3 separate regions of the Homo sapiens genome follow, and regions 2 and 3 are each linked to region 1. The links come from fine-mapping of genetic effects on gene expression. A gene starts in region 1. Each other region holds a variant in brackets. All regions are shown on one strand. Distances are from middle to middle. Region 1 holds the start of LHCGR (luteinizing hormone/choriogonadotropin receptor). Region 2 overlaps STON1-GTF2A1L (STON1-GTF2A1L readthrough). Region 3 overlaps STON1-GTF2A1L (STON1-GTF2A1L readthrough).

The links. PIP is the estimated chance that this variant, and not a neighbour inherited with it, causes the effect.
Region 2: its variant is fine-mapped to the expression of LHCGR in sigmoid colon (GTEx, PIP above 0.99). The same link has a PIP of 0.9 or more in prefrontal cortex and prostate.
Region 3: its variant is fine-mapped to the expression of LHCGR in tibial nerve (GTEx, PIP above 0.99).

Annotation. Positions count from the first base shown.
Region 1 is chr2:48,754,549-48,757,311 of GRCh38, reverse strand. LHCGR (luteinizing hormone/choriogonadotropin receptor) reads left to right here and starts at 1,588. Exons shown (of 11, transcript NM_000233.4): 1 at 1,588-1,801. The coding sequence starts at 1,641. All of the region lies in intron 10 of STON1-GTF2A1L (STON1-GTF2A1L readthrough), which reads right to left. RefSeq lists an enhancer at 1,254-2,030.
Region 2 is chr2:48,594,009-48,596,771 of GRCh38, reverse strand. The region is part of intron 3 of STON1-GTF2A1L (STON1-GTF2A1L readthrough); the gene reads right to left. STON1 (stonin 1) reads right to left here. Exons shown (of 4, transcript NM_006873.4): 4 at 1-1,544. The coding sequence ends at 1,470. Among named protein-coding and RNA genes, the nearest start is that of GTF2A1L, 22 kb to the left of the region's middle. The variant C/T (reference allele first, on the strand shown) is at 1,530.
Region 3 is chr2:48,733,546-48,736,308 of GRCh38, reverse strand. All of the region lies in intron 10 of STON1-GTF2A1L (STON1-GTF2A1L readthrough), which reads right to left. The region is part of intron 1 of LHCGR (luteinizing hormone/choriogonadotropin receptor); the gene reads left to right. Among named protein-coding and RNA genes, the nearest start is that of LHCGR, 21 kb to the left of the region's middle. The variant T/C (reference allele first, on the strand shown) is at 1,451.

The sequences.
Region 1 (2,763 bases):
ACAGACACATATGGAACACCTACTAGGAGCTAGAAGCTATGACATGCTCTGTTGATATTGAGATGAATAGAGAGGGGAAAGCAAAATTAAACCCACAATTACAGTGTGTTAGATTACCTGCTGTAGAACCAGGTGTTATGGCCACAACTACTCAACTAGGATGACTCAGAGAAGAATCAAAGTGGAAATGACATTGGGCTGAGTCTTGAAGGACAACTGGGAGTTTATCTAATGGAATAATGGAAAAAGAAGAGAAAATAGTGGGGACAGCCCATGCAGAGGTATTAAAGGGTGAGGAGTCATCTATAAGCAGTTGAAGAGAGGATCCAGAGAAGACAATATTATAGACATGAGCATTGTTTTTGTGCCATCTAGCACAATGTGGCCAAAGCCAAACAAGTTTTTAAAATAATAATAATCTACCCTCCTTGAGCAACAGACTGTAGAATGGTGAATGAAGGAGCCCATCCTTGAGAACTGGCTTCAGAGTGAAAGAAATCTATTCTTATATTTCCTCTCTTCAAAGCCTTAAATGCCTTCCCAGCTTTCAAAGTCCACCTCTTCCAGCAAAACTGCTAGGATTTCCAGAATCCAAACAGAATCCTTGGAAGGAAGAAATGATCAAATCAAAGAGGGGATATTATGGATCCCCATGATTACCGTAAAATTTTGTCTCCTAAGTTCTTTGGTATGTAGATCATAGCAGCTTTTTGCATTGGTGAGAGGTGGTAGGTGATAGACATGAGTTCCAGGTTTCACTACTTTAAAACCGTGTGACTTCAGGGAAGCCACATACCTCTTGGGACATTTTTCTCATCGCAAACACCCTGCTAGTTCAATGTGGAGCTTAAACATGATGTGAGGCAGAGCACCTGTTACAAGGTCTAGCCTATCCTGGGCCTTCTATGGGGCAGCTGCTACCAGTATTAGGCAGTTTCATTCATTCATTCAACAAATCTTTACTGAGGACTTACCATGTAGAAGCCAGAAGGAATACAAAAATAAATCTGAATTGGATTTTGCTCTCAAGGACCTCCCAATCTATAGAAGAGATACAGGACCAAGCCAAATAGCTATACCATAAATAAGAAAGCATTTACCACCAAGAGAAATTACTGGGGTAGTTGGGAGGATGGGCAAAGATTACTTGTAGAGTGGAGGGATTTGGTGAAAGAGAAGGGGAAAGGATTAGGGGTTGAGGATAAAAGAGAGGAAAAATGTCTGAGCCAGGCACTCTTACGCCTTCTGATGTGGGTATAGCGAGTATCCATCGGACCCTTTCACAAATGAAATAAAAGGGGTTCCGGGAAGCGTCACAACTCACTCAATTCAGAACTCCCCACCTCTAATCCAAAACATTTGCCATTAAATCTCTTTACCTCCTATAGCTAGGGCCATTTGCAGATGGTAGGGGACAAGACAGGGGAAAGTAGCAGGAAGGAGGTTATTGGGTCACTGGGCACTGTCGCAGGTCAAGGCAGAGCAGACTCAGCGGGGTGCGCGGTAAGAGGGGGAGGGCAGGGGCGGGCCGGCAGGGAAGGGTGTGTGGAAGGGCAGCCAAGGGGCGGGGAGAGGGGTGCGGGCCGCACTCAGAGGCCGTCCAAGACACTGGCAAGCCGCAGAAGCCCAGTTCGCCGGCCATGAAGCAGCGGTTCTCGGCGCTGCAGCTGCTGAAGCTGCTGCTGCTGCTGCAGCCGCCGCTGCCACGAGCGCTGCGCGAGGCGCTCTGCCCTGAGCCCTGCAACTGCGTGCCCGACGGCGCCCTGCGCTGCCCCGGCCCCACGGCCGGTCTCACTCGACTGTGAGTACACAGCGCTCCCGTCGCGGCGCCCTTGATGCAGGACCCTCCATCGCTCTATGCCACCTTCCCTCCCTACTCCTTTGGCCCCCTTTCCCTGGAAGCTTGGAGAAAAACGCTTTGCCCTATCAAATTTCCCCCACGTTTTAGGGTGATGAGAACCCAAAACTTGGTGGTTGTTTTTACCACCCCATGCCTCTGAGAGCCCCAGCCCCATTCTTTACCCCTGGTTGGGGCTGTGGCCGGGGGAGTAGAACTATTCAGGAACCTCAGGGGAAGGCCTGCTCTCTGCCGCTGCTTGAAGGGAATATGGGTGTGACGCTCCTCAACTCCTCTGGCAGGGGTCTCTGCCAGAGAAGTCTTACAGGCCTTTGAGCCTTGGGCCAGCCACGTCAGGGAAGGTGAATGTGAGCTCTGGCACCCTGTGGTCCTCTAGGAATGGAGTGCTCAGGCCCTATGGCCAAGGGTGACCTAATCTGTCAACTGACTGCTGGCAGTCACACGGGCATCTTAGTGAGCACACAAGCCGCTGCTCCACCGTGCCCAGATGTGCTTGAACTTCAGTCTCATGGTCTAATGGACCAAAGGCCCTGTGCCCTGCCGCTGGCACCCGCGCACCACCTCCACACTCACAGGCCTGATTGAGGGATTGTATACATCAGCAACCTGGGGGAGGGCGTTGTTTCTGGAGTAATGGGGTAAAGAGGAGAAGGGGAGCCTTTAGTACTAGACTATCAGGGTGTCATCAGGTCTCCTTTCTCCTATTTAGAAAAAAAAGTACCACATATTTTATAATACTATTTACATGAAATGTCCAGATAAACTGAAAGTAGATTAGTAGTTACCAGGGCTGGGGAAGCGGATGGGAGGGACAGTAGGTGACTACTAATCAGTGGGTATGGGCTTGGGGCGGGGGGGTGGTGAAATTTTTGTAAAATTAGATTGTAGAGACAGTTGCGTGTGAA
Region 2 (2,763 bases), 160 kb after region 1:
AAAATCTGCTGATTGATACAGACCATCATAAATGTTTGTCTTAATCTGTTTTTGAACAGATTTCAATGAATGTAATATAATATTAAATATTAAAAAAAACACATGAAATAAACTCTGTAGGCCAACACATAAATGTTGTTTGGAAGAACACTAAATCAGTTTTGACTCAAAACAAATCTAGCAAATAGAGAAAAATATCTCCTAATTATGTTTAAGACTCAACATAAATTGAAGGTATATTAATACCACATGGGGGAGTTTGTTTTTCAGACTAAAAACAATACCTGGAATATAGATTTCATAAATTTTAAAATTCTCACTTTTCACTGTAAATGCTGAAAGGAAATTATAAACAGAATTATAACTGCTAATGCTATTGACTTTTCATTAGAAACCAAACTATTATAGTCATTTACCTGACTCTGAAGAATAAAAATGTTGCCACTTAGAAATCTGGGTAAAATACCAAGTATCTTTCACTTTGCTCACCTTTTAATGAAAAATACTCTAAAATAAGCAGAATTAGCATAAAACAGCATGATAGCAGAACTAGTATAAAATAATCATAATGTGATTTAGACTTCTACTCAAGAGAGGCTTGTGTTCATTACAAATAATACTTTATCAAAATATGTCCTTAGAGTCTGTACTTTTGGAAAATAGTATTTATAAATTTTAAAAATTCATATTTAATATACACAAATATGTTAACTAGTGTCTAATACTCAGATTCCATTTTGAAAGGAATCCTGCCAAGTGAAAGGAAATATGTCTTAGTGATTTATACTAAAATATGTAGGACAACAGAAATAGCTTCTTTGCAGCACGCGCCAGAAAACAAACACATTTTGAAAATGACAATACAGTAGGAGAGAGACAGGTACCAAATATAGCCAATTATTATTTACCAACGGTAAGAGGACAGGTAAATAAGTAATTCAAAAGCACAGATACTTCCAGATCTACATTTTAGCCTGTGGTTTCAACATCATTCTACACCTAGCCACATTTCAGAGGCAAGAAAGAGGGAAAATTAACTATTTTGGTTTATGTCTCCTTTGATTCCCTTACCCTCTAGTACAGACACTAAGCAGCAAGAAGAGATGGGAAGAAATGAAGACGGCACCTCAGTAATCCAGAGAGCAAAACAGTCAGCCACTGAGTAATCAAAAATCATACTGGCTGCGGGGTCACACAACGAGTAACAGTGCCTTTGAGTTTCAATAGGAAGCAAAACATCACACGAATTATAGAAACATTTTAGATCGAACCCCTAGGACAAAAACACATGAAAAGCAAAAAATACAGATTGTTCGGTTTTAGGTCTAAACTTCTCTAAACACAGCCATCAGACCTGTCCTAAAACCGCTATTCAGAAGTCATTTCCACTCTACAGTAGCAGGACTTGGTGTGGTTTCGGTGAATTACATATTTGACAAGTGGGCTGTCATCATAAACTCTTGCTACTCCTACTGAGTTATGCAGTCACCAATTTTATCTGGGTCTTCTCCATCGATTTTAATCCACTT[C/T]TTTTCTATTTCAACCTGTTATGCAAAAGCAAAACACAGGCAGCATTAACAAATGCAACACAGCACTCACACCTCTTCAGTCCTATTTTATACATGTGGCACAGACTGCACAAACCTCACCCTTTGGACACAGACACAGCCCTCTACCCTCCTACAGTAGCTTCCAAGTGAGGCGCTCTGCTCTCCTTTTGAACAACAGAGCCCCTCAAATCCTCCCCGCCAGGGTCAAGTCTTCAAGAGCACCAAAACTGTCTTCTAAGTCAAACGTAGTTTTTATAAAATGTATACAGAATATGTATACTGAAAAAAAATTTACAGATCTGACTAGACATATGATCAATTATCCCTCTACCTGAATATATGGCTGTATCATGTATCTAGCCATTGGCCCCCTTAAGATTTATAATGCACCCAAAATTATCTAATTGAAACAAGCCATCTTACAAACTATTAGGTTGCTGCAAAACTAATGGCAAAAACCGTGATTACTTTTGCAGCAACCTAATAGTAAACCATCTGCTCTTCATCATTTTTGTCTCAGCTCAAATGTCACATCCTCCTGGAGGTCCTCCAGGACTACCCCTGATAAAGCCCTCCAGTCACTCTCTATCCCGTTACCCTATTTTATTACCTTCTTGGAATTTGTTATTAGTTGAAATCATATTTATTTATTTATTTATCTACTAACTATTTTTCGTTTACCCCCACTAGAAACTATGCTCCATGAGGACAGGGACTTTGTCTCTCTGTTCACACTGCTGTGTCCCTGCATGTGGAGCAGTATCTGGCAACAGATAATTACTAAATGGAAGAAAACATTTTGAAACTGCCACCAGGTGCACATCAACTAGTAAATGCTACTAAAGCAAGAGATACTTTGTAAAGTAATTTTTAATTGTCCACTAAAATTGCATGAACCTGGCATGCCCTGTGAATAGGAAAATAAGTATAAACACAGTCTCCATGCCACTTGACCCACATTTCAGTCACACATAATATATATATACCTAGTGTTATAGGTCAGGTTCCCCAAGAAATAAACTCTGAGATGGAGATCTGTGTGCAGAAAGTTTACTGGAGAGTGCCGTTGAGTTCAACATTCATGGGGGAGTGAGGCAGGAAATGAAGCTAAATGGGCAGAGAGAGAAGCTGGGATGCAATGTAGTCAGAATGAAGGCTTCTGTCCATGCCCTGGAGAGCTGAAGCTGGGCTGACCTACAGCGTTAGCCCAAGT
Region 3 (2,763 bases), 21 kb after region 1:
CACCCGGAGGCAAGGGGGCTGGGCCTTTATTCTATACATTGTCCAGTCACTGGATGAGGGCTGCCCAAAAGAGAAGACATAATCCTGGGTGAGGTAGCAATCTTGGTCTGTGTATTGGTCCATTCTCACACTGCTATAAAGAAATACCCAAGACTGGGTAATTTACAAAGAAAAGAGGTTTAGTTGGCTCACAGTTCTGCAGGCTGTACAGGAAGCATGGCTAGGGAGGCCTCAGGAAACTTACAATCATGGCAGAAGGCAAAAGGGAAGCAAGCACATTTTCATGTAGCCAGAGCAGGAGGAAGAGAGAGAGGAGAGGTGCTACACACTTTTAAACAACCAGATCTCATGATAACTCACTCACTCTCATAAGAGCAGCAGCAAAGGGGAAATCTGCCCCCTTGATCCAATCACCTCCAACCAAGCCCCACCTCCAACACTGGGAATTACAATTTGACACGAGATTTGGGTGGACACAGACCCAAACCACATCAGTCTATAAGCATAATTCTAGGAGAGCAACTCAGCTGAGAGCTTCAGCCACCCACTCTTTCCTAGCAGTTGGCGAAATTGGTGCGTCAGTACTAAAGAGTGACTTGGGTAGCCCACCACAGTATCCACTACAGAAAGTAACCCAACTCCACTGGGTAGTCCTAACACAGGGTCACCGTCTGTGCCAAGGGGCCCAGTTTGAAAGTCAGAACTAAGCAGTAAGAGATACTAGCTTGACCCTAACCAGACAGCAACCAGGAACTGTTCTAGGGCAGCAGTGTTCCCTAAGGGGTAGAGATACAGGGATCAGGATCTGGTGATTGAGAAAAAGAGAAGGCAGGAACTAAGAGAAGCCCTACTCCTAGATGGATTCTGGGGAGACCAAGCAAGCTACAGAATAAGAAATCGAGACAAAAACAAACACCAGCATAGCATGTGGGAAGGCACTGCAGGTGCACTCCTGCCCCCAAATATTAATATTATTGGGTCCAGTTTAGACGATGCACAAGCCTCGCCAGAGTCATGACCAATCACAAGATCCCAGTACTAGGATGAATGACTTAATTCCAGCCCTAAGGAGGACAGACTGTTTCGATTTCAACTTTAACACACAACTAGAAGGGTTGGGGACCTGCAGATGAGATTAATGAGTAGATGGAAGTTCCAAGCTGATGAAGCTAACGCAGACTTTGTAATCCAATTGAAGCATTTGTTTCAACATCTGTGGCAAAGGCACTTGGGCAAGGTGCCACCTGCGTTGCCTCATCAATTTATTTAAAAACAAAAGTTCAAAACTGCAAAAAAGACTGTGAAAATATAATAAATTTAAGTAGCTGCATAGTTCTACAGCCATATTTTTCCACAGCCGTCTCACCTTTCAAGAGAGAATCTCCACCCTGCAAGTTCAACCTCATATTTTCCCAGTAACCCTAATTCTTTACCACCCATCTGAGGTGCA[T/C]AGTTGTGGTGTATCACCCTCTTTTGCTGAGACAGAAAGGGCTCTGTCCTTCCTTTATTTTCTTTGCTTTATGCATAGCTTTCATTCCTTTTTTGACCCTGGACAGCAGAGCTGCTGAACTGTCCTTGCCTTAGGCATTTTTGCCCTCAGTTCTCCTTGGCTTCTGCTCTATATCAAATGATACCGACTAGACCTTTCCACAATAGTTCACAAAACTATTGGAATACAAGTATGCCTAACTCCAAAAAAATATGAAGGAAAGGAAAGGAAGGAGGGAAGAAGGGAGAGAGGAGGAAGGAGGAGGAAGAAAGGTAAGCAAGCAGGCTGCCAATACATCAAAATAAACCTTTTTTATTTTCCATTTGTCTCTCTAGTACAGAGGGTTAAGTTGGTCATATTTCTTCATTCAAGTAACATTATCACTAGTCCATTCAAAGTCCCTCTCTGTTTTTAGTTATTTATTTTATCTCCTTCTCCCACTTCTGTTCCTCTCAACTCACCTTAGATAACAATCCTAGTGTATGTTCATGTGCAGGAGGAGGTTAATGTCTAGTGTTTCGTTTACATATATTTTAATTCTGCAAACAGTATATTATATCTCCGTAATTTCTTGTTTCTCTCAGTTCCATGATTTGAAGATCCACCCATGCTACTCTGTGTGCCTTTAGACTCTCACTTCTACAGGCTCTCCTATTCAGTTAGGTGTGTACGGTCCAAATTTTACATACTCCCTCACCTAGTAATGGACACCCAGGTTGCCTCCAAGCCCCTGATGCCACAATGCTGTGAAGAAAACGTTTGTACAAGATTCCTTTAAGTATCAATTTGAGAATTTTTCTCAATGTATACAGGAGTGGAATTGCAGGGTTATTAAGATCATTGTTCACATTGCTAAAAGTTTCTGGCATCATGGAAAGAATCATAGATGCATCCAATAGAGAGTGGGACACCTTCAAAGGGAGTACATTCAAACAGTTATCAACAAATCATAAACTTTATTAATAAATTCTGGAGACAGATACTTGAATGCTTAGGAACTGCTACCCATCAAAGACGAATCAGAAATGAAGATGTGACATTTCTGAAAAAAAAAACATATAAGTCTGTAGGGAAAATGGTTTTCGATTCACAGGACCACATTCTCTGTGTTGCCTCATGGGAACACATCTGTTGTGAAAAGCACAGTGCACCTGCCTAACCCCACCTCTCTCCCCATTCCCTGGCCCCCAGGACTCTTTCTTGACCCAGCCATATCCACAAAGTCACCTGCTGTTCACTTGGTGTCTCTTTTATAGGGGAGGCTCTAGTTTCAC